7 separate regions of the Homo sapiens genome follow, and regions 1, 2, 3, 4, 5 and 7 are each reported to be linked to region 6. The links are microRNA targets in miRTarBase. Many come from high-throughput screens and were not tested one by one. Region 6 holds a microRNA gene; each other region holds the end of a gene's coding sequence.
The links. Region 6 holds the annotated microRNA hsa-miR-5681a (AGAAAGGGUGGCAAUACCUCUU, at 1,220-1,241, shown strand). A microRNA usually pairs through its seed, bases 2 to 8, with sites in the 3' UTR of a target mRNA and lowers its output. Matches are read on the target gene's strand: a 7mer-m8 pairs with bases 2 to 8, a 7mer-A1 pairs with bases 2 to 7 and ends in A, and an 8mer does both.

Region 1 (3,000 bases), not on the chromosome of region 6:
GGGTCGTGGGCGCGTCGTTCCGCTGGGAGCCAGGCGTTGTGTACCAAGTCGGGTGAGCCTTGGGGCCGTCAGGGCTCCTTCGCGCTCCTGTGTGCGTGTTTCTCATTCTGCCTTAAAGTCACTGGCTGTTCATGACACCCCCTGGCCATGCAGTGCTGGGTATTTTTCTAGAAAGTCCCTCCTTTCTCCCTTTTGCAGACGGCCGAAGCCCTGCAGCCCACGCTACAGCCGGAGATGCAGCTCGAGCACGGGGCCATCCAGATTCAGTGAGCGGTGCCCATGGCACCAGGAGCCCCTCGCCGGCTCCGCCTACGGCCCGGCCCCCACGCGCCCTGCTCTCACGGCCTCGGCACAGGCAGCGGCTGCACGTGTTCTGCTGAAGTGCGTCTGAAGGCCGCTGCCTCCGCGGGGAACAGCATCCTATCAACTGAAAGAGCAGCCGCCGCCGCCCCCAGCCGGAGACCCCTTTCGTTTGAGTCCTGCTGTTGGTGTCGGAGCACGAGGGGAGGCACGGTGCGGAGAGCGTCGCATATGCGCGGGAAATCAAGAACTATGATATTTTTCTGTTTAAACAGCTTTTTTTAATTTGCTATGGTGTTTATAACAAAAAAGAAAATTTGAAAAAAAAAATCCCAGGGGAGTAGCAGGAGCCCTTTGCTGTGTGCTCTGTCCAGTGTCATGAGACGGGAGCCCTTTGCTGTGTGCTCTGTCCAGTGTCATGAGACGGGAGCCCTTTGCTGTGTGCTCTGTCCAGTGTCATGAGACGGGAGCCCTTTGCTGTGTGCTCTGTCCAGTGTCATGAGGCAGGTGTTTGCAAAGCCAGCTCTCGGTTCCGATGGGGTATTGCTGACCTACTTTTCTAGGGGAAATGCTCTTAAACACTGTAATTATGCATTTCTAATGAAATAAAATGTATTTATGACCACAGCAGCCTTACGCTTTTCCTCCTGCGAGACGGTTCGCCAGAGAGTGCCTGTCCCTGGGGGGTTGGGCTCGCTGGCCTTCAGGCCACGCTGCTGCCCTCTCCACTGTGCAGACAGTAGGTGTGGGCACCCCGGGACAGTCAGTTCTGTTTCCGTGTTGTAGGCACTGCCGAGGGGAAACCTGGTTTAGGACACAGCTGTGGAACTTCTTGTTCTCATAAACCACAGAGTTCTGCCAGCTCCAGAAGGCACAGTCCTGGGGTCCTTAGAGAAAGTTGCAGCCACAGGGGCAGGCCCTACTATTTACAGATTTTTTTAAGGCAGAGATAATATCTGCAAATAGAAGTGCCAGAGGCAGTTGAATCCCTGGTGACCAGCCGGGCCTGGACTGCTTCACCTACACCGTTGTGGCAGTTGCGTTAGGGGCTTGGGAAGGGCCTACGTGAAGCCGTGTTCGCTGACTTAGAGCGGGGCCTCTCTGGGCTTTCTCTGGGAGGAGTTCCGCGTTGCCATCCAGACGGTCGTAGCTCCAGCCTGCTCCACCCCGTCAGGATCCTGGGCTGGGTCCCCTTGGGGGTGAGGGTCTGGGATGAGCTGCTCTCGAAAGGGGGATGGCGCTCATGGGTTCTGCGTCTCCATCGTGGTGGGGCCGCCTCTGAAGATGGCCACCACAAGGAGCCGGGCCGAGGCCTCCCAGGAGGTCACCGGAGCTTGGCCACTCTCCAGGAGACAGAAAGGACCAGCTGGGAGGCAGGGTGTAGAAAGTCAAATCCACACGTGTATGACTGGAATCCCAGGAGAGAATGGAGAGAACAGAAGGAAGATGCATTTCAAGGATTCAGGAAGTAGAATAGAACCCCAAGGAGAAACGAACATCAGTCTCTGCCTCGACACACTCAAGTATCACAGGCAGAGATAATTTTGACAGCAGCCAGAGAGAAAGGACAGATGCCTGCGATGGGATGAAAGCAAGGCAGCAGGCGTGGGCACCCACTGGCCGCTGGGTGGAGGGGGAGCCACTGGTGCAGAGGAGGGAGCTCTCGGTGTGGGGCTGGGTCTTCAGTGAACCTGTTGTTCAGGATGCTAGTGACATGCCACCAATTGACCCAGCAGTTCCACTTGTGGGGATCCACCCCGGAGCTCTGAAGACAGCTGCTCACACATGCACTTGTGCCTGGCTGTGCCCAGCAGCACGGCTCATACCAGCCACAGGGTAGACGCAACCTGGGTTTCCATCAGCAGATGAAGGGAGAAACAAAGCTGACTGTCCAAAGAATGGGACGTCATCCAGCCACGTGAAGGAACAGAACATGGATGCGTGCTGCATCCCGGCCAGCACTCAGAGGAGCTGTGCCAAGTGAAGCCACGTGCAGAGGACCACTTACTGTTTGATTCCATTGATACGAAATGTCCAGAAAAGACAACTGCAGAGAGACCGGTTCGTGGTTGCCAAGGACTGGGGTGAGGCAGGATTGGGAGTGACTGCGAATGGGCGTGGGGTTTCTTTTTGGGTGATTAGAATGCTGTGGAATTGAAAGTCGCTGAATCCTTCACTTAAAAGGGCGAATTTGTTGGCATATAAATTATCTCAAAATTACAAAAATAAAGAATTAGGTGATACTTAAAAAAATGTATAAACAAAAATTGAGGCCGGGTGCGGTGGCTCACGCCTATAATCCCAGCGCTTTGGGAGGCTGAGGTGGGAGGATTGCTCGAGCCCAGGAGTTAGAGACAAGACTGGGCAATATAGTGAGACCCCATCTCTACAAAAAAATACAAAACAATGAGCTGGGTGTGGTGGCACGCACCTGTGGTCCCAGCTACTTGAGTTCCTGAAGTGAGAGTATCACTTGAGCCCAAGAGGTTGAGCTGAAGTGAGCTATGATTATACCACCGTACTCCAGCCTGGGTGACAGGGCAAGACCCTGTCTCACAAAAGAAAAAAAAGCTGTCATTTCCGATGACACCTCCTTTACCGGGAATTGTTAGGAATTTTTCTTGAAGAGCAGGAGTATGAATCCAGGGGAGGTGCCTAGAGTAAGATGGAGCGATGGACAAAGAGAATAATAAACATACA
Region 2 (3,095 bases), not on the chromosome of region 6:
TTCCACCCCAAATGTTGAAATCCCTGCAAGATTAAAACCCTTGGCTGGGCGTGGTGGCTCACGCCTGTTAATTCCAACTTTGGGAGGCCGAGGCAGGCAGACCACCTGAGGTCAGGATTTCAAGACCAGCTTGTGCAACATGGTGAAACCTCATCTCTACAAAAATTAGCCAGACATGGTGATGCACGCCTGCAGTCCCAGCTAATTGGGAGGCTGAGGTGGGAGGATTACTTGAGTCTGGCTGCGGAGGTTGCAGTGAGCTGAGATAGTGCCACTGCACTCCAGCCTTGGCAACAGAGTGAGACTTTGTCTCAAAAAAAAAAAAAAAAAAAAAAAAAAGATAACTCAAAGGTAGGAATAACAAATGTTTATTCAGAAATGGATAAGTAATACATAATCACCCTTCATCTCTTAATGCCCCTTCCTCTCCTTCTGCACAGGAGACACAGATGGGTAACATAGAGGCATGGGAAGTGGAGGAGGACACAGGACTAGCCCACCACCTTCTCCTCCCGGTCTCCCAAGATGACTGCTTATAGAGTGGAGGAGGCAAACAGGTCCCCTCAATGTACCAGATGGTCACCTATAGCACCAGCTCCAGATGGCCACGTGGCTGCAGCTGGACTCAATGAAACTCTGTGACAACCAGAAGATACCTGCTTTGGGATGAGAGGGAGGATAAAGCCATGCAGGGAGGATATTTACCATCCCTACCCTAAGCACAGTGCAAGCAGTGAGCCCCCGGCTCCCAGTACCTGAAAAACCAGGTCCTACTGCCTTCTGGATGCTCTCTTGGGCCAGGAAGGGAAAAGTGTGGGAGGAATGTCTTCCAGCTGCTAACGAGAAGTCTGCACCCACTTGAAAGGGTTAGGAGAATAAAAAGCAGCATTCTTTAAAGAACTGCAAGTGGAGCACCACCAGGCCCCTTCCTTGGACTTTCCCGTCCTGGGCAGCCTCAGAGCCTGCACACTGAAGCTGGGTTCAAATCCTGGGTCCTTCCTGCCTGACAGACTGACCCCTGGAAACATGAGTCTCTGGTTTTTTTCACTGGGCTAGCCTCAAGCAAATCTTGGGAGCTCTTGAGTATCTTCGGCATGTGCCTTTTCCAGCACTTGCTACTGATTTTGCAGAGCTCCCAGAACCGTGCTCCCCAACTGGCTCCAGCTCTGCCAGCCTGGATTCTCTTCACTCCCAACCAGCAGGGGACCACTCAGTGACAACACTGGCCTGGTCATTCAGGGACTGCCTGGGCTCTGAAGTTTCGTCCCAACTGTCTGCGCCTATGCTGGGGAAACACCTTGCCTGGTAGAGCTGCCCTGCTCCCTTGACTCCTCCTCCTCTGCCAAGGCAGGAAAATAATCCTCTGGTCATGGATGGATGGGGTCACTCACATAAGTGGGAACAAACAGTGCCCCTTGGTGGCAGCTGGATATATGCCTCCAGGCATCCCTGACCACTGTCCTGTAGACAACTGAGGCCAGAAATGGAGAGCCAGGAACAAACTGACCTCTTCCATTCAAATAAGCTCCAAACCCAAGCACTGCACAATGGGAGGCTGAGCCTTTCAAAGGCCCAACCAGAAGAGAGCTGGCGGCTACACAAAACCAGGGTGTGGTTAAGTGCCAGGCGAGGTGAGAACCGGGAGGGCTCACAACACAGCCCCCTCCCAGCAAAGACACCCAGAAGGGAAAGAGAGCTGGGGTGGGGCATTCAGCACAACTCAAGGAAAAGGGAAAGGTGAACTCTGGAGAACTTCCTCTGGGTGGAGACGACACGGGACTCCAAGCCAAGAGCTTAGATAGACTCTTCCCAGCGGTGCAGCCTCATCCTGCCCTTGCCACTAGTGAGGCCTGGAGCCACTGGGGAGAGGACAAGAGGCCTGAGACCTGCTCCCCACCCAGGCACCTCCACTGACAAGACAGAGGAGCGGCACAGCTCTCAGGCCGACCTGGCTCCCGTCAGGACACCAGGGCTCTCCATCCCCTCCATTGTTTGAAAAGCTTAATACACACAAAGGAAAGGCAGCCCCTCGGCCCCTGGAAAAAGCAGGGTCCTTCAGACAGCCCCCACGCTGCATCCCATGGGGCCACAAGAAAGCCACCCAGAGAATTCAGTGTACCATTTCCAGATAAGAAATCAGCTTGGGGCTGAGGCTCGGGGAGGCACACACTGAAAAACACAAGCCTACCTTGGCGATGAGATGAAGAAACATACTACAGGAAACGTTAACGTAGAGAGAAGAGCACAGGGCAGAACACAACACAGAAAGGCGGGTCCCATCCAGTGAGGAAGCTCTTTATCCCTGGCAACCCTTCCCACAATCAGGGGTCTCCAGTCCGATGGCCCATTGGTCATAAGCTTTGCCTTGGGGAAACAGAGCCACCCTCCTCTGCCCCCACTTCTGGCTGCCTCACTCCCCTGCTCAAAGCTTGATTTTGAATTCTGTGGGCTGCGTGGTCACAGAGGCCCCTGAGGACTTGAAGAGTGCCTTCAGGATGGTGTCAGGGTCCACTTCGGCAGGGGGGTTGGAGGAGGAGGCAGAGTTCACCCTGCGAGGCAGCTCGCTCTCCTTTTTCATTGATGGGCTGTCACTCAGCCGCCTGTGGAGAGCAGAGAAGAGTCAAAAATTCTTGTCAGTTTTTCCTTAGATGGGGAGGGGACCCACCATTTACTGGGCATCTGTCATGAGCTAGGCACTGGGTGTAACACTTTCCATACCCCTTCATCTCATTCCACCTCGCAGCAAACTCAATCACAGCTCACATCAGCCTCCATCTCCTAGGCTCAAGCAGTTCTCCTGCCACAGCCTCCTAAGGAGCTAGGACTACAGGCGTGTACCACCATGCCTGGCTCATTTTTAAAATTTTTTGTAGAGACCAGGTCTTGCTATGTGGCCCAGGCTGTGTTTTTCTTATTTACTGATGAGAAAATGGAGACGCAGGCAGTGCTGTATGTTCTAGGGTTTTGTGGGGTTTTTTTGAGACAGAATCTCACTCTGTCACCCAGGCTGAAGTGCAGTGGCATGATGATGGCTCACTAGTCTCGATCTTCCAGGCTCAAGCGATCCTCCCACCTCGGCCCCCCAAGTAACTGGG
Region 3 (3,095 bases), not on the chromosome of region 6:
CTGACGATTCTGACGTGGAATCCACAGAGCAGTGTTTAGCTAACAGTAAACAGACATCTTTACACCAGCAAGCAACTAAGGAGATTCAGGATGCAGCTGGGACAAGCAGGGATAAAAAAGAATTTAGCCTTGAGCCTCCATCAAGGCCTCTGGTTCTGAAAGAATTTGATACTGCCTTCTCCTTTGATTGTGAAGTAGCCCCAAATGATGTCGTCTCTGAAGTGGGAATATTTTACAGAATAGTAAAATGCTTCCAGGAACTACAAGATGCCATCTGCCGTTTGCAAAAGAAAAATCTTTTCCCATATAATCCAACTGCACTTTTGAAGTTGTTAAAATACATAGAGGTGATAAGTAATAAAACTATGAACACTTTGTAAAACATTGACATTTTATTTTCCAGGTATTGTTTTTCCTTAATATAAATTATGTCTCAATGAGGTAATAGTATAAAATCATCACCATAAAAGGGTTTTCTTTTTTTTTTTTTTTTTTGAGACAGAATCTCATTCTGTCGCTCAGGCCGGAGTGCAGTGGCGTGACTCGACTCACTGCAACCTCCACCTCCTGGGTTCAAGCAATTCTCCTGCCTCAGTCTCCCGAGTAGCTGGAATTACAGGTGCCCGCCACCACGCCCAGCTAATTTTTGTATTTTTAGTAGAGACGGGGGTTTCACCATGTTGCCAGGCTGGTCTCAAACTCCTGACCTCAAGTGATCCGCCTGTCCGCCCTCCCGAAGTGCTGGGATTACAGGCATGAGCCACTGTGCCCGGCTGGGTTTTCTAGACAAGTTCTTACTTTTTGCCTTATTGGAAGCAACCTAGTGACTGAAAAAGAGACATCAAGTGACAAGTCACTCATTATAGCTATATACCACTGGAGATTTATGGCAGTTCTAAGTGACACAAAATCGGGGGTGGTGATTGCGTTCCTCAGCTAGGGCTGCCGTAACAACTTGCCACGTGTGCCGCAGCTTCAGACACCTGGAATTATCCTCATAGTTTTGGAGGCCAGAATCCAAACTCAGGCTTCAGCAGGGCAATGCCCTCAGGGTCTGGAGAAGAATCCCACCCTGCCCCTTTCTGGCTTCTGGTGGCAGCCAGCCAGCCATGGTGTCCCTTGTCTTGTAGTGGCGTCACTCCAGTTCCTGCCTCACATGGCATTTTCCTGTGTCTGTGTCCAGTTTCCCTCCTACAAGGACATCGGTCATTGGACTAGGACCTACCCTCATCCAGTATGATCTCAACTTGATGACAGCTGCAAAGACCCTAATCCCAGATATGGCCACTTTCATGTGTCCTTGATGGACTTGAATCCAGGAGAGTCACTAACCAAATACAGTTACTATTTCCTTCTGGGGTATTTACACAGAAAGCGATATATTACAAATGTAAAATCTTAGCCGTTTCTTTGAGAAGTGATTATACCTGGCCTACTGTATGAACATGATTCTTTCTAAAAAAAAATTTAATCACTAATTTTCCTATTTAAAATTGTGACATGAATAATTATGTTCCATATTCTTGAGGGGAAGCCGTAAATTCCATTGTAATATGTTTGTGTAATAGGAGCAATAGCTATATTGTGCTGCGAAGTCTGGCATTAAGGCAGTCTAAAATATTGCCTGTACATTTTTTTTTAATGATCTCTTTGCAGAGAAACAGAACAAAGACTAAACCTACCGCACATTAAAATATATATTAAGGCTATGGTATTCGAAACAGTTTAGTACTTAATTCAGGTAGACATGGAAAAATCAGTGGAGCTAAATAGAAGGTTGCCGATTAAAATAACAGCGAAGTACCAGTGTTAGCCAAATAGCAATGCAAAGGTCAAAAGGTTTGCGTTTTAACATGCTGTCGGTGAGGCTATGCGTTAAGGCAGTTTCTACCGTAATTGAAAAAGCACGTCAAAGAATGTGTATTCAAGGATGCCACATAGTTTGTAAAAAATGTTAAGGTTTTAGAGTTTTACTAGAAATACCTGGTAAAGTAAGTCAGAATTTGTATAGTCAGTGGAATGGTAGATGCGTTCTATGCACGTTTGTGGATGTGAAACATCTCCAGTAAAAAACAAGTAAATACATGGGGCTTGCAATTATTTAGGGAAAGAAGCAGGGCGGGAGTAATACACATTCATATATATGCTTTTGTGCATGTATAAAATATGTATGTAAGACTACATAAGAAAGTCATAATAGTGGTTGCCTTGGGAGACAGGTCTGATGTGGAAGACAAAGTCTCATCTTTTTGTACTATTTTTAGTGGGATACATGCAGCACTGCATTAGGATGTTTCAATAACAGACCACATAGTACAGTGGTCCCATAAGACTATCAAGCCGTTATTTTTACTGTGACTGTCCTATGTTTAGGCATGTTTAGATACACGCATACTTACTATTGTGTTACAGTTGCCTACAGTATTCAGTACAGTAACATGCTGTGTACAGGTTTGTAGCCTAGGAGCAATGGGCTATACCATATAGCCTAGGTGTGTAGTAGGCTATGCCATCTAGGTTTGTTGAGTATACTCTGTGACATACATGACATGACAACAAAATTGCCTTACAGCTCATTTCTCAGAACATGTCCCTGTCATGTGACACATGGCTGTTTTTTGATGGAAATAACTGGGAAAAAAAAATCGACTCTTGTTCCTAAGGGTACATAAATGTTGAATGCATTATAACTCATGCTTATGCAGATGTGGTTTTGACTTGTGTTTCTCTATAAGGTTAGCAAGGAACTGTCAGCCCCTCATTACATGTAAAATGAGGGAAAAGCAATCTTACAGATATGCGAAGTTGGTGTTTCAGAATCTCTACATTTATAACTAACTCGAGTGTAAGTCAATTCATCACACACTCACTAAGCCCTGCTCTTGCTAAAGGTGACCCTTGGCTGGTGTGATCACTATCCTTGGCCTTTCTGAGCATCTAAGCGCTATTCCCAGAGTTACTTCTTAAAGGAACACAAAACTATTGATGCATGTCTGCACAGTGAATTCCCAGAGTACAACACAAGAGGAGTCTGTAACCTCACCCCTTCCAGTAAAAGAATATGGAAATACAAGTGAGCACATGGTGCTGTGCAC
Region 4 (3,095 bases), not on the chromosome of region 6:
GGCCTTTCTTATTATTGATCCTTCTATCAGGGAAGGTTCTGCTTTGCCTCCTTCCTCCCTGGGGATGTTTTGGAGAAAATGCTTCCCTTGCAAAGGCCCACACACATCCTTGCCCAGGAAACCTTGTCCCCTCCCCTCTCCCAAAGGGGGTCTTGGTTGCTGTCCATGGTGCTGGCATCCAGACCAGCCTTGGGATGTAGGAACAAAAGCTGGACTGCGGTTCAAGTAATTTCAAAGTGTGGAAGTATATAACTTCCAATTTTTGAGGGAGTAGAGTGGATAGGGAACTGAGACTGAACCCTCCGTCTGCTCAGTAGGAAACTGTTTCCCCAGAGAGAGAACCCTCTATATCCCCCATCTTGGGAGACAGAAAGGCCAGACTTTACTGATTTGCCATTCTCAGAAGAGCTGGTGGGGACCAAATGGGGGATTGCAAATCAGAGTGACTACTAATATCTATACCAGCAGATAGGGCTCAGGTAGATAGGACACATGTGGAGCTTCCTGTGCCAAGCCTGAGCTGTCCTCTGTGATGGCTCTGCAGGGAAGGTTAGACATACCAAAGAAAATAGACATACTCACACACAAACACACTGTATCCATTTACACTCTGGGTCCTAAAATGAGGCCAAGTGGGACACTTTCCCCTCTCCTTCAGCACTAATGGAAGTCTTGGTATGGGAGTTGGGGCCAGCAATCAGTATGGTCTCCTCTTCTTCCTTTTTCCAACTTAAAAAGATCATTGTCCAGGAAAGGGTCATGGGAACTGCTGCCCTCTTCAAGTGGGCATTCCTACTTGCCCAGTGGAAAATAGGGAGTACGGATGGGCAGAATTCTCATCACTGATTCCAGGGTAAAGGGTCTGACAAGCTGGGCTTTATTCTCCCTCAAAGATCAAATCTGCTGAAAATTTGGTCATTTAGGTTCAAATTGAGTTCAGTGATAGAGGAATAGGGGTGGAGACTGAGTATACAGTAGGGAAGGAGTTGAGAAGGGCAGAAAATGCACAGAAACCTTGATCTTTGTACGAGGCTTTGGGTCTGCCCTGCCCCTCTGTAGATCTTGCATAATTAGATGCCCCTGCAAAAGGCCTGGTGGCTACTGGAGTTTCTGCGGTCAGGGAGCCATGTCTAGGCCAGGAGGCCAAGGTGTGGAGGAGGAAGAAGTGTGAAGTGAAATCTCCATCTACACCCAGCTAATTGGAATAGGGTGAGCGGTAGGGGAAGGGGGGCAAGTCCTGACATGGGAAGGGTAATCTGGGATGCAGAAGGAACTGTGCAGTGTGCTGAGAGATTTATTTGGATGGAAGATGAGTTAATCTGTATACATCACAAGAGGAGAGCTGTGCCCAGCCTCTGGGGGGCCAGAGAATGCTGACTTAGGGAAACAGTCTCCCTCTGCCCACCGCCCTTATCCTGCCTCAGTGCCCCAGGGCTTCTGGCCACCCCCACACTCAGCTTTCATTCTGTCTGTCTGATTCCACTTCTCTGCTTGTATCCCTTCCTCTGAAGGAAATTATCTTGGAACAACTTTTCCAGAGAGGGCAAAGTGACCAATCTAGGACTTCCTTCAATCCTGGCAGTCCAAAAGCACTTTCCTTACCAGAGTCAGCAACCTCTGCCCATGTCTGCAAATCCCTAGCTCCGGGCCCATTTTACAGCTTAGCCCCTGCCGTTACTTTTCACCCCCCACCCCCTTAATCTCTTACAGGAAGCCAGACTAGACTTGGATGTTCCCACTACAGACAGAAACATGTCTGGGTTTGTGTTACAAACTACTCTTCCAGGCGTCCAGACCTCCCATTGTTATGGGGGTCACCCCCAGGACCTGAGAAACCAAGGTGGGAGATGGGAGGGTTAGAGTCTTGCCTCCAGGTCTTGTAGGAAGTGGGAATATGAGAGAAATAAGTCAAAATCAAGAATGGAATATTTGATTTATTCTAAAATTTGTGAATATTTAAAAATTTTCAATATAAAAAGCCAGAGGCCTGGGCAGGGACAGGCCCAAAGATGTCTCTGCCTGAGAACTAAGTGATGGGGCAAACCCACTTAATAGTGGCCAGAGAGCAAAGGAGAGTTATAAGAAACCGTAAACCAGGCTAGGGCAGATTCACCTTCCTAGGGGCAAGACAAAGAAGGAAGGGGGTAGACAGAGCCTACTAAGTAAGCTGCTTATCCCTTCTGCCACATGGTTCAGATTCAATCTAAGAATGTGTATGGTGACACCTAGTCAGAGACAGGCCCTGGCAGGGGACATAAAAAACAAATAAGGCTTCACCCTTCCTCTCAAAGAGCTTACATGCAAAGACGAAGGACCAACCAGGTACAGACCAGATGCACAGTTACTGAGCTTATGCTTTGATAAATGCTTAGCCAGCAGCATCAATGAACACTATGAAAGCCCAAAAAGAGAGGCAGTTGAATCTTTCCTCAGGCCATCCAGCATTATTAGTTAAAATCTGATTTCATCCTTGGGGGATGCATACATGATCAGAAGGGCCAAGCAAGCAGAGAGACCATGGTTTTCTCACCTGGCTTCCTGAGTCAGGCCAAGTGCATACTTCACACATTGGTCAGGGCCGCCTCACACTTCACTATGGTGGTTCTATCCAGTTTGGTCAGATAGGCATTAGGGGAAGATGTATACCTTGGTCTTGTGCCTACAAAAAATCTTATCCCTATGATGAATGAAAGGGTGATGATGACAGTCTCTTTCCATGGGACTATCTGTCCAAAAACTGTAGGTTGATGCTCCTTTCAGGTACCAGGACAGTCCGGGTCTTGGGTCTAACTGGGGCCGCACCTGGCTCAGGCTGCACCTCAAAATGTGTTAGGATCTGGAAAGGGAAGAAGGTGAGCATTACTATGAAAGATATCTATAATGGGGGGATTCATTGGTAATCCAATTGGTAAAGGGCATGCATTATTAGTGTTAGAATGGTCAATGATTGGGTGGCACCTGTGGCCAGTAGGGGACTTCTTGGTTAATAAGGGTGAGGGATTATGGTAGGGAAAAAATAGTTTGAATACCCTCACTTACACTCCAGGCCTATAATGGGCTTATCATATTTCAGAAGATTCATTCTACCAGGTCTT
Region 5 (3,095 bases), not on the chromosome of region 6:
GTGCTGACCCTCTTGCTCCAGGGTGCAGGTGTTGGAGTGAGCTCTCTGCTGCATCAGGAACCCCTGCAGTGAGTGTTGTCCACTCACTGGGATGCCCCTCCATCCTCTGGACAAAGGCAATTGTGAGGCTCTGCGCACTTGGAGGCCACCCTAACACACTCTTTCCTCTGCTTCTCCCGCTGCTGCAGGTTATGTGTTCTGTATGTTACATCGCCTCCCCGAGCAGCACGACTGCACATTCGACCACATGGGCCGTGGCCGGGAGGAAGCCATCATGAAAATGGTGAAGCTGGACCGGAAAGTGGGGCGCTCCTGCCAGCGCATCGGGGAGGGGTGCTCCTGAAGGCCAGGCATGGCCACCACGTGACGCTGTTCTTAGTTCACTAATGTTAGCCTTATTTAGGACAAAGTCAGCCAGACACCTTGTACTGGGCACGCGTCAGACTGCAGCCAGTCCGTTTCCTTTCTTTAGCCAGCCATCCTGGTACTGTAGTTTAGGGGTTGATGGTGGTTGAAATTGATTTCTGGCTGGTTACTAAGGTGCCTGCTAGCCATTGTATAAAATTAAAACATGAAGAATATTTTTTTTTTGAGCATGGCTAGTGGATTTAAAACAACACATACCTGTCACTGCTGGAGTCAAACTTATAAAAAGCCTTAAGTGGAAAGTGTTCCAGACGGAGACTCTGAGTTAATAGAGGAGTAGAAGCTGGTGTTAAAGTTCCCACGACGCACATGGCTTTGCCAGAAACTCTGTTTAATGATCGGCCTTTCACCTCTTCACTTATCCTTAGTCCCAGTAGCCAGGATACCTGATGGCCACGTGTGCCTTGGCCACGGGAGGCTGCTGAGATTGGCCACGTGGCTGGGCTGGGTGGTGGCCTCACTCTCCCACAGAGCTGGAAATGGGGGGTGGGGGACAGATTCTTACGGAAATTTTTTTACCTGACTTGCTATGAAAAAACTCATCACACAAGAAGAGAAACAGTAACCTCACTTTGAAAATTAGCTCCACTCAAGACTAGTCCACGAACGAGACCCGCCTTTTCTACACAGGATCCAAGGTCACGAGAAGCAGCCAGAGTGCCCCGCCTCCGCCGGCTCTGGTCTGCCATTCGCCAGTGCAGGGATCTGGCACGGACCAGATGTGGCGAATGGCAGCACAGCGCGGTGGCTGGGTCTGCACACTGGCCTCTGCAGCCAGATTTCTATATTGGGAGTTTTTTAAAAAGACATTTCATAGCCAACAAGAATCAGTAGAAGTGCTGGGAGCAGCAGCTGGGGAAGCTGCCGCCCACGGGCTCTGCCCCTTCCAGCTGGAGCCGCCCGTGCCTCCAGGGGCCAAGAGGATGATGTCGTGGCCTCCATTCTCGTTTCTATGCAGCCCCATAGTCCAAGGACACCCAGTCCACATCTACCATATAGCAAGTTTAGTAAGGGAAGGCAGCATACGTCCCAGGGACAGTGGGTTTGGATCTGTCTAGAACAGCGGTTTGTGGCTGTGGCCCAGCTCCGAGAGTGATATTTGCTCTGGTAGGTGAGGGCCTGAGGGTACATTTCTCCACCTGTGCCCCCTCATGTTCACAGAGGATTTCAGCAGCTGCAACTGCGCACGCCAGGTGGGGAAGGGTGGGGGTGGGCCTGGTTGCCCCATGTTAGGAAATCACTACCAGTCAGGTGGGGCTGGGGCTGGGTGGACAGGATCAGGATTCCCTTGAAAGCCCAGGCAGGGTGAGCAGTCCCAGTGGTCCTAGTGCCGCATCAGATCCAGGTGGGTGAGGGCAGGAGGCCCCTGCGGAGGCAGCGTGGATCTGCCCACACATAGGCTACTGGAATAGTTTAACCCAGCAACTTTCCTTTTTATAAAACAACAAATGGTTCAACTCTGTCTGCAAATTAACAGCTGAACACCTGCAACTGCAAATGTTTTTTGATCCGACGTACTGAAATAGGAAGTCATGCTCTTCCCACCCTCCACCCACCAGAGTGGAACCCGCTGCAAAATCCCCAGCCTTAATTCTTGCTTCAGGACCCAGACCGGTGTCTTGCTCTAGGGCAACCCAGGGCAGAGGGGCCAGGTCTGCCCAGCGTTTACCACTGCTGTCAAGCCACAGCCCTTGGCCACCATACGGGCCATCCTCAGTGAGGCAGCCCCCCATAGGCTTCCGCCAAGCTCTGGTCCCGAAGAGGCTGTGCGAGCCCTTCCCGGCCCTCCCCAGGGCCCCCCGCCCCCTCCTCTGCCTGCTGCGTGGAGGCAGCCATGGGAAGGAGCCCAGGGGAGCTGGCCTGGGGGAGCGAAGCCCATGTTCGCTTCCTGACTTAGAGCTGGGGGGGGTGGGGGGTGGGGCTTGTTCCCCTGCAGTATCTGTTCTGTGAAGTTTGTTAAATGTAAGGAAAGCTTAAATTCTTGTATCTTTAAAAGAGAAAATCTTATTTAACCCTTTTGTGTTCTAGATTTACTTACACACATAGCCTAGAGCTCAGTTTTAGTTTTAACATTGTGAAAATATTAAAAGAATCTTGTAACTTTATTCTTTTTTCTCCTGCTGAAAAAAAAAATTAAACCAATCGTATGAAAGTTTGGTTTTCTTGTTTCACCCCTTCTCCTAAGTGCCCCCTGGGTTGCTGGGAAAACTGACCCATCTCCCTGGCCAGGGCTGGAAAGAGATGGGGGCCTGTGTGCAGAGACCGTCTGCAGTACTTGGAGGCACTCGTCCAGTTAGTGTCCAGGCTAAACAGCCGCTTCCTTGCTTTCTGTTGGGAGCCTCTGCCCTGGGAAGCTGCGGGACTGGCCTTGGGGTAAAGGTGGGTCTGCAGGGCCAAGCCTGTGCCAGCAGCCAGGAGGTTACACACTGGGGGGGATCAGAAAACGAGCCCCAGCCCTGAGGGCCCCAGGCGTGGGTGGGGTGGGTGCTGGGTCCTGAGGGAAGGCAGCATGCCCTAGACCCGAACCCCACCCTAGGAAGGGCCTCCAGGATGGATGACGAAGGCTCCCAAAGGCTGGCTTGGAGGAGGTGTGTGCTGTGGCACTCTTTGGTGTATAGGATGAACTTAACTACATTTTTAAATGTTCAAAAAACATTTGGCAGGGCAGG
Region 6 (3,095 bases):
CAGATGTTTGAATGACATTAACAAATGGAAGCCTCCAAATCTTTCCTTGTTTAACAAGTAACAGCAGGTCCTTGTTTAAATAGTGATCATTAGTGATCGACTTTAATCCTTCGATTATAAATCTCCCATTTCTTCTTCTCTTCTATAAACTAGCTGACCTTTGTGTGCACATTGTGGATGTGTGGATGGCAGCAAACTGGAATTTGGACTAATTGAGTTGTCAATCAGATTTCTGTGCACTCCATATCACGTAGTTAGTAAGACTGAAATTATGGAAGGTGGTTGATTATTCTAGACATCTGAAGGATTGTTCTGAGCTCAATCAATTTCTTCACCAGCTGTTCTCAGGGCCAAAATGCTGAAAACAGTGGATACCATTTGGGATATGGAAAGGCCAAAGTCAAATCCAACTTGGACTCGGCAAAATAGAAATAGTCCTTTTCCTCATGTACTTTTAAAGTTTAGTCACATTTTCACGATTATAAACTGTTACTTTGGGCAAAGGATTGTTTCCAAGAAGCCAATGAATTGCACATATACAAACAGGCTGTGTTTCGGATCCATTTGTAGGAAACATCTTCTCAGCCCTCTGCCTCTTATAACCCCTGTGGCTCCTTATTAATGCACCTGCAGGAGAGGCACACACTATGTCACTCAGCCCTGGCTGCACCCTCAGGCAGGTGGTGTGTGGGTGCTTTAGCAGCTCTTTGAAGAATGTGATGCAGAACCATGAGCTAATGAGGAGTGCTAGGCACTATCCACCTGCAACTGGAGCACAGTATACTGCTCAGCAAATGTCCACATCTAGCAAAGCGGCTGCCCTTTGTCCACACTCCAATTTAGACAGAAGGCAAATGAAAAAGGACACACACAAATTTTAGTTTTCATTCTCCTTGGAAACATTTCAAAAAACTAAATAAACAACTGCCTCCTCCTGTCCTCTACCTCCAGGCTCTTTGGGAGCAATCCCTTAAGCAATTGACGGTTCTTTGGGAGCAGAAATAAAGAGAAAGTGAAAATTCTGGCTTCCTTTTTGAACTACCTTAATCTGTGAGAGAAAAAAAAAAAACCCTAAGTGATATGATAGATGCAACAAGTCTATGTTTATCGTGATTTATTGTTCACAAAGGGCTTTATATAGATGATCTCATATATTCCTTACAACTTCCTTGTGAAGTTTTTGAAGAGTATTGCCACCCTTTCTAGTCCCTATTAGACTAGAAAGGGTGGCAATACCTCTTCCAAAAACTGAGACTTGTTGATATTAAGTGAGTTGCCTCAGCAGTCAATGGCACTTTAAAATGTGTTTTACCTATTTTGTAGGATTTTTCACATGTTGTTTTTAACAATGGGAAGGGGATAGCCACTAGAGATACCAATATACACTATTCTGAGCCAAAGAAGCCAAGTTAAAACATGCCTTCATGGCACTTGAATTCTTTATAAAGTAATTTTTGAAGTTGAATTGAGACTTCCTGTTTAGAAGCTTGATTATAAACTCTTGGCTAGTTCTCTGACTTGCACACTTGTGTTCTGCTATTCCCTGGTCCTGAGGCCAGCCTCAGTCCCCCAGGGTTTTCTATTTATAGACCTCTTTCCTCTTTACAATAAACCACTTATTACTTTGGGTCAACTTTCAACCAAACAAGTCTCATTCATATAGGGGTCCTAAGTGGCTTCATCCTCTTAAACAAAGGAAAACCAAGATGGAAACAAGACGGGGAGCATTACATTGACTTGTGAGCAGGTAGTGACCAATAACTAGTGGGTTTTCCCAAAAACACAAAACCAAGCAGATCAAGGTGAAAGGGGTGGGGAAGTGGTGCTGACAGTGGAGGAGAGGGTCTGAAATGATTTTCTTGCTTGTCTCCAAGCTCTCAAGATTTGCAGGTACAAGAGCTCATCCAGGGACCAAGTGCCATCTGTTCATTAGAGACCATGCACGCACCATGGGCCTTAGGAAGAAGAAAAGTCCACTGCAAAGGGATTCTAGAAAAACATAGGTATCGGGTCTTATATGCCATCTGGAAAATGCATAGTTTCCATGACTGTGGAAGTAAGAGGGTATCTCACAGGTCAAGACTGTCCAGGATGCTTCAGGGTTTGCTTGTAGTAAAAGTAATTTTTTTTTTTTTTGACGTGGACTCTTGCTCTGTCACCCAGGCTGGAGTGCAGTGGTGCAATCTTGGCTCACTGCAACCGCTGCCTCCCGGGTTTAAGCAATTCTCCTGCCTCAGACTCCCAAGTAGCTGGGACTACAGGTGTGCACCACCACGCCTGGCTAATATTTTGTATTTTTAATAGAGATGGGGTTCACCATGTTAGCCAGGATGGTCTCCATCTCCTGACCTCGTGATCTGCCCACCTTGGCCTCCCAAAGTGCTGGGATTACAGGCGTGAGCCATTGCACCTGGCCTAAAGTAATTTTTTTTAAAAGTTATTTGTTTTAAAACATTTTGTATTAATTACATTTATCGCCATGCTTCTGGAAAAAGGGTGAAAAAACACTTTGCACATTATCTGGGAAATTATATACAGTGTATTGCTGGAAGTAATGGGCTAAGGATCTATAATACAATATTTTTAGTAATTATGATAAAAGGAGAGAATATACACATTATAAGAAACAATACTTTTGGTATCATCTTTATGATAATGGTATTAGAATTTATTGTGAGTTCTGGGGATTCCTATATCTTTTATTTATTATAGTACTTTGAAGTTTTCTTCTAATTCTCTATACCAACTTCCAATTTAAATAAGAGAGAGACAACTAGACACTAGAACTAGGAGAGTTACAATCATTTAGTCAAAACTACAATTTTTATGAGAACTGAGGGTCAGGGAAGTTACATGATTTGCCCAACATCACACATCTTGTTAGAGGAAGACCTGGAACTAAAACTGAGGAAAAGATGCAGTGGATTCTTTTTCCTTTTTTGTGCATAAATTTCTTGAATCTTTTCAAATACGTTGCATGGAAACCACTCAGCAAGCAGGTAAGAAAGGGTGTTTGAAGTACAGGATTCTTTCAGAATGCTACAGCCACTCCAAGTCAGCAATGGCTGCCTCTGGCTGACCTTTAGGCAACTTTT
Region 7 (3,095 bases), not on the chromosome of region 6:
AGTGGTGCGATCTCAGCTCACTGCAACCTCCGCCTCCCAGGTTCAAGCGATACTCCTGCCTCAGCCTCCTGAGTAGCTGGGACTACAGGCGCCTGCCACCACACCTGGCTAATTTTTGTATTTTTAGTAGAGACGAGGTTTCACCATGTTGGCTAGGCTGGTCTTGAACTCCTGACCTCAGGTGATCCACTGCCTCGGCCTCCCAAAGTGCTGAGATTACGGGCATGAGCCACTGTGCCCAGCCTAAAAACAACATAACTTTTATATGCACTGGGAAACCAACAAAATTGACTCGCCTTATGCAATATTCACTTTATTACAGTGGTCTGGAAATGAACTCACAATATCTCCTAGGTATGCCTGTACAACAAACATTTTACATTACTTCGATAACATAAAATTATATTGTAAATGCATCTCTTACTGAGAATGGTCGGTCTGTGGGGCTTTGATCTAATGAAGCTATAAGGATACTAACAATTTGAATTTCTCTCTTAATTTGGTGCCCTGGAAGTAACACAGGTTCTGGGTGAGATGGGTAGCACCTTAGGTAACTTTATCACTTGGCAGACGGGGAATGAAAAGCGTGGATGGGAAAGGAGATCTGGCACGGGAGTTTCACACTAGGTAGATCAATTTGAGGAATGAGAACACAGAAGCCAAGGATCTGAACATTTATTTATTTATTATTTATTTTTGAGACAGGGTCTCACTCTGTCACCTAGGCTGGAGTACATTGGCACAATCACGGCTCACCGCAGCCTTGACCTCCTGGCCTTAGGTGATCCTCCCACCTCAGCCTCCTGAGTAGCTAGGACTACAGGCATGCGTCACCACATCTGGCTAATTTTTTTTTTGAGACAGAGTTTTGCTCTCGTTGCCCAAGCTTGAGTGTAATGGCATGGTCTTGGCTCACTGCACTCAGCTCACCTCTGCTCCCAAGTTCAAGCGATTCTCCTGCCTCAGCCTCTCAAGTAGCTGAGATTACAGGCACCCGCCACCATATCCGGCTAGTTTTTTTGTATTTTTAGTAGAGATTGGGTTCCACCATGTTGGCCAGGCTGGTCTCAAACACCTGACTTCAGGTGATCCACCTATCTCGGCCTCCCAAAATGCCGGGATTACAGGTGTGAACCACCGTGCCCGGCCTACTTTTTGTATTTTTTGTAGAGATGGGGTTTTGCCATGTTGCCCAGGCTGGTCTCAAACTCCTGGGCTCAAGCGATCCATCAGCTTTGGCTTCCCAAAGTGCTAGGATTACAGGCATGAGCCACCACACCTAGCTTGTTTATTCTTTTAAAACTGCCTATTTTGCCATGAAATAGGTACCCTTGCTGTGAAAGCCTGTGAACACCCCTGGATGTGTGTACCTTCATTTAAAAACTGCCTTAGAGGGCATGAAATGTCATCAGGGAAGATCTATTCCGAGCTGGGTGTGAGCTCTAGCCCTCTCCCTGACCATCGGTTTGCTCTGGGGTATGAGGTTCTGAGTGTGAGGCGCCCACTGGGGCCTGGCGTCAGGGCCGACTTGCTTCTCTTAGGCTCTGCGTTCAGGGGCTACCTCTTCCAAAGACTACACAGCTGCAGGCCCAGCCTCAGAGCAGAGGTGATATGGGTATTACCAGGCTCTAATGGAAAGTGTGCTCTCTCGATATCTACTTGCAGGGAAGCTTCTGAAATTGGTAAGGGAGCACCTATTGCAAGGCTCAGTGAACAAATGGTTTTGGTATTTCCCTTTTTCATGGGGCACCAGAAGGGTATTTTCTCCTACACAGGATCGCATCTGAAGACTTTGCTGAACTGTGTTTTCCTGAAGTGAGGAGATGAAAGACCTCAGATAGGAAAAACAGAGAGTGAGAGAGAGAGACAGACACTGAGCCAGGTTCCCACACAGTTTATTGAGGGAGCCAAAGCCAGTGAGAGGACGAAGGAGTCCTACTTCAACCTACTTCCTTAAAGCTGTGTGCCTCCAGCATGAAGGGACCTTCCCAGAGGGCAGGGCCTGCCCTATAAGGGGCCACATGAAGCCTTGTGGAGACTCCTGCCTCTCATACCACAGCCTGTCCTACCCTAAAGACCCAGACATGACAGCAGACATAATCCCCACCCCAGGAGGGTGCTGAGGAAACACCCTTACCCATGCCCCTCCCCTAGAGACCTCAGGAAGAAAGGCCAGGACACCTGTCCTGTGATTGGCCAGTTGAATCCTCAACGTGAAGACCTGGCAGGCCTGGCTGACAGGTCTGTTCAGATGTGGCCTCAGGCATCTACTCTAGGATCCAACCCCTAACATTCAAACATGATTAAAAACACCCAGGACACTTCTCTTGCTGGCAGAGGCCACACCCCAGATAATGGCAGTCCTGCCAAACTCTGGCCAGAGATAGGGACCCAAGCTGACTGGGTGTGAGCACGTAAGGAGACCACTCTGCCCCATGGGGAGAATCTTCCAGGGCTCAGCTGAGGCTCAGAGCCCAGGCTTATGTTATTCCCCATCAAATGCCAGTGATTCCTCCAAACATTCCCCACAAGGGAGAAAGGGAGGAGGAGGCAGAGAGCTTATCAAGAGGTTCACCCTATATGGGGCTGGAGGTTGGATCTACTGGGGTGAGGAAAAGGGTGTAGAGGATTGGGGCACTGGGGCAGGGGCGCTGGCACATTCCTCAGATTCTGGCATGTCATCCTGGAAGTACTCAGCCTGGCGGTACTGCCACAGACGCAGGTTCCCGTCCCACTGCAGGGCAGAGGGTGGCAAGCAGTCAGGATGTGCTGCCCCCACCCAAGTCCAAGCCCCAGACATGTGCCAGCACCCTCAACCCTTGCAACCTCACCGAACTGCTGACAATCTTCTCTTCAAAGGGGTGCCAACTGACGTCACGCACACAGGCCTTGTGGTTGGTCAGCTTCTTCACAATGTGGCCACTTAGAAGGTCGTACACTGTCCAGGACAGGCAAGAGTGGAGAGGGACCACCACAAGACATCTAAACTATCCCTCACCTCCCCATGAGTAGCACCACTGACCTGCCTCTCAGGCAACTTCCCATGTTCCCATGGGAGCAAAGCCCACACCAGAAGACTGTGTTATTTCTGCTTC

Region 1: the mRNA of BANP is a reported target of hsa-miR-5681a. Seed matches in the 3' UTR shown: 7mer-m8 at 464-470.
Region 2: the mRNA of POLDIP3 is a reported target of hsa-miR-5681a. Seed matches in the 3' UTR shown: 8mer at 860-867.
Region 3: the mRNA of LINS1 is a reported target of hsa-miR-5681a. Seed matches in the 3' UTR shown: 7mer-m8 at 1,077-1,083.
Region 4: miRTarBase lists CYP27B1 as a target of hsa-miR-5681a. Seed matches in the 3' UTR shown: 8mer at 2,688-2,695.
Region 5: miRTarBase lists ZFAND3 as a target of hsa-miR-5681a. Seed matches in the 3' UTR shown: 7mer-A1 at 769-775.
Region 7: miRTarBase lists DCAF11 as a target of hsa-miR-5681a. Seed matches in the 3' UTR shown: 7mer-m8 at 2,536-2,542.

What each region holds. Positions count from the first base shown.
Region 1 is chr16:88,076,392-88,079,391 of GRCh38, forward strand. It overlaps BANP (BTG3 associated nuclear protein), which reads left to right. Exons shown (of 14, transcript NM_001386991.1): 14 at 199-925. The coding sequence ends at 270. Among named protein-coding and RNA genes, the nearest start is that of LINC02182, 120 kb to the right of the region's middle.
Region 2 is chr22:42,583,369-42,586,463 of GRCh38, forward strand. It overlaps POLDIP3 (DNA polymerase delta interacting protein 3), which reads right to left. Exons shown (of 9, transcript NM_032311.5): 9 at 353-2,600. The coding sequence ends at 2,423. Among named protein-coding and RNA genes, the nearest start is that of POLDIP3, 30 kb to the right of the region's middle.
Region 3 is chr15:100,566,523-100,569,617 of GRCh38, reverse strand. It overlaps LINS1 (lines homolog 1), which reads left to right. Exons shown (of 7, transcript NM_001040616.3): 7 at 1-2,694. The coding sequence ends at 380. Among named protein-coding and RNA genes, the nearest start is that of LINS1, 34 kb to the left of the region's middle.
Region 4 is chr12:57,760,420-57,763,514 of GRCh38, forward strand. It overlaps CYP27B1 (cytochrome P450 family 27 subfamily B member 1), which reads right to left. Exons shown (of 9, transcript NM_000785.4): 9 at 1,915-2,836. The coding sequence ends at 2,723. Among named protein-coding and RNA genes, the nearest start is that of CYP27B1, 5.1 kb to the right of the region's middle.
Region 5 is chr6:38,152,047-38,155,141 of GRCh38, forward strand. It overlaps ZFAND3 (zinc finger AN1-type containing 3), which reads left to right. Exons shown (of 6, transcript NM_021943.3): 6 at 189-2,578. The coding sequence ends at 343. Among named protein-coding and RNA genes, the nearest start is that of BTBD9-AS1, 330 kb to the right of the region's middle. RefSeq lists an enhancer at 991-1,611.
Region 6 is chr8:74,547,368-74,550,462 of GRCh38, forward strand. MIR5681A (microRNA 5681a) reads left to right here and starts at 1,176; the gene lies at 1,176-1,250. It overlaps MIR5681B (microRNA 5681b), which reads right to left and starts at 1,242; the gene lies at 1,183-1,242.
Region 7 is chr14:24,122,814-24,125,908 of GRCh38, reverse strand. DCAF11 (DDB1 and CUL4 associated factor 11) reads right to left here. Exons shown (of 15, transcript NM_025230.5): 14 at 2,832-2,938; 15 at 667-2,734. The coding sequence ends at 2,600. Among named protein-coding and RNA genes, the nearest start is that of FITM1, 6.3 kb to the left of the region's middle.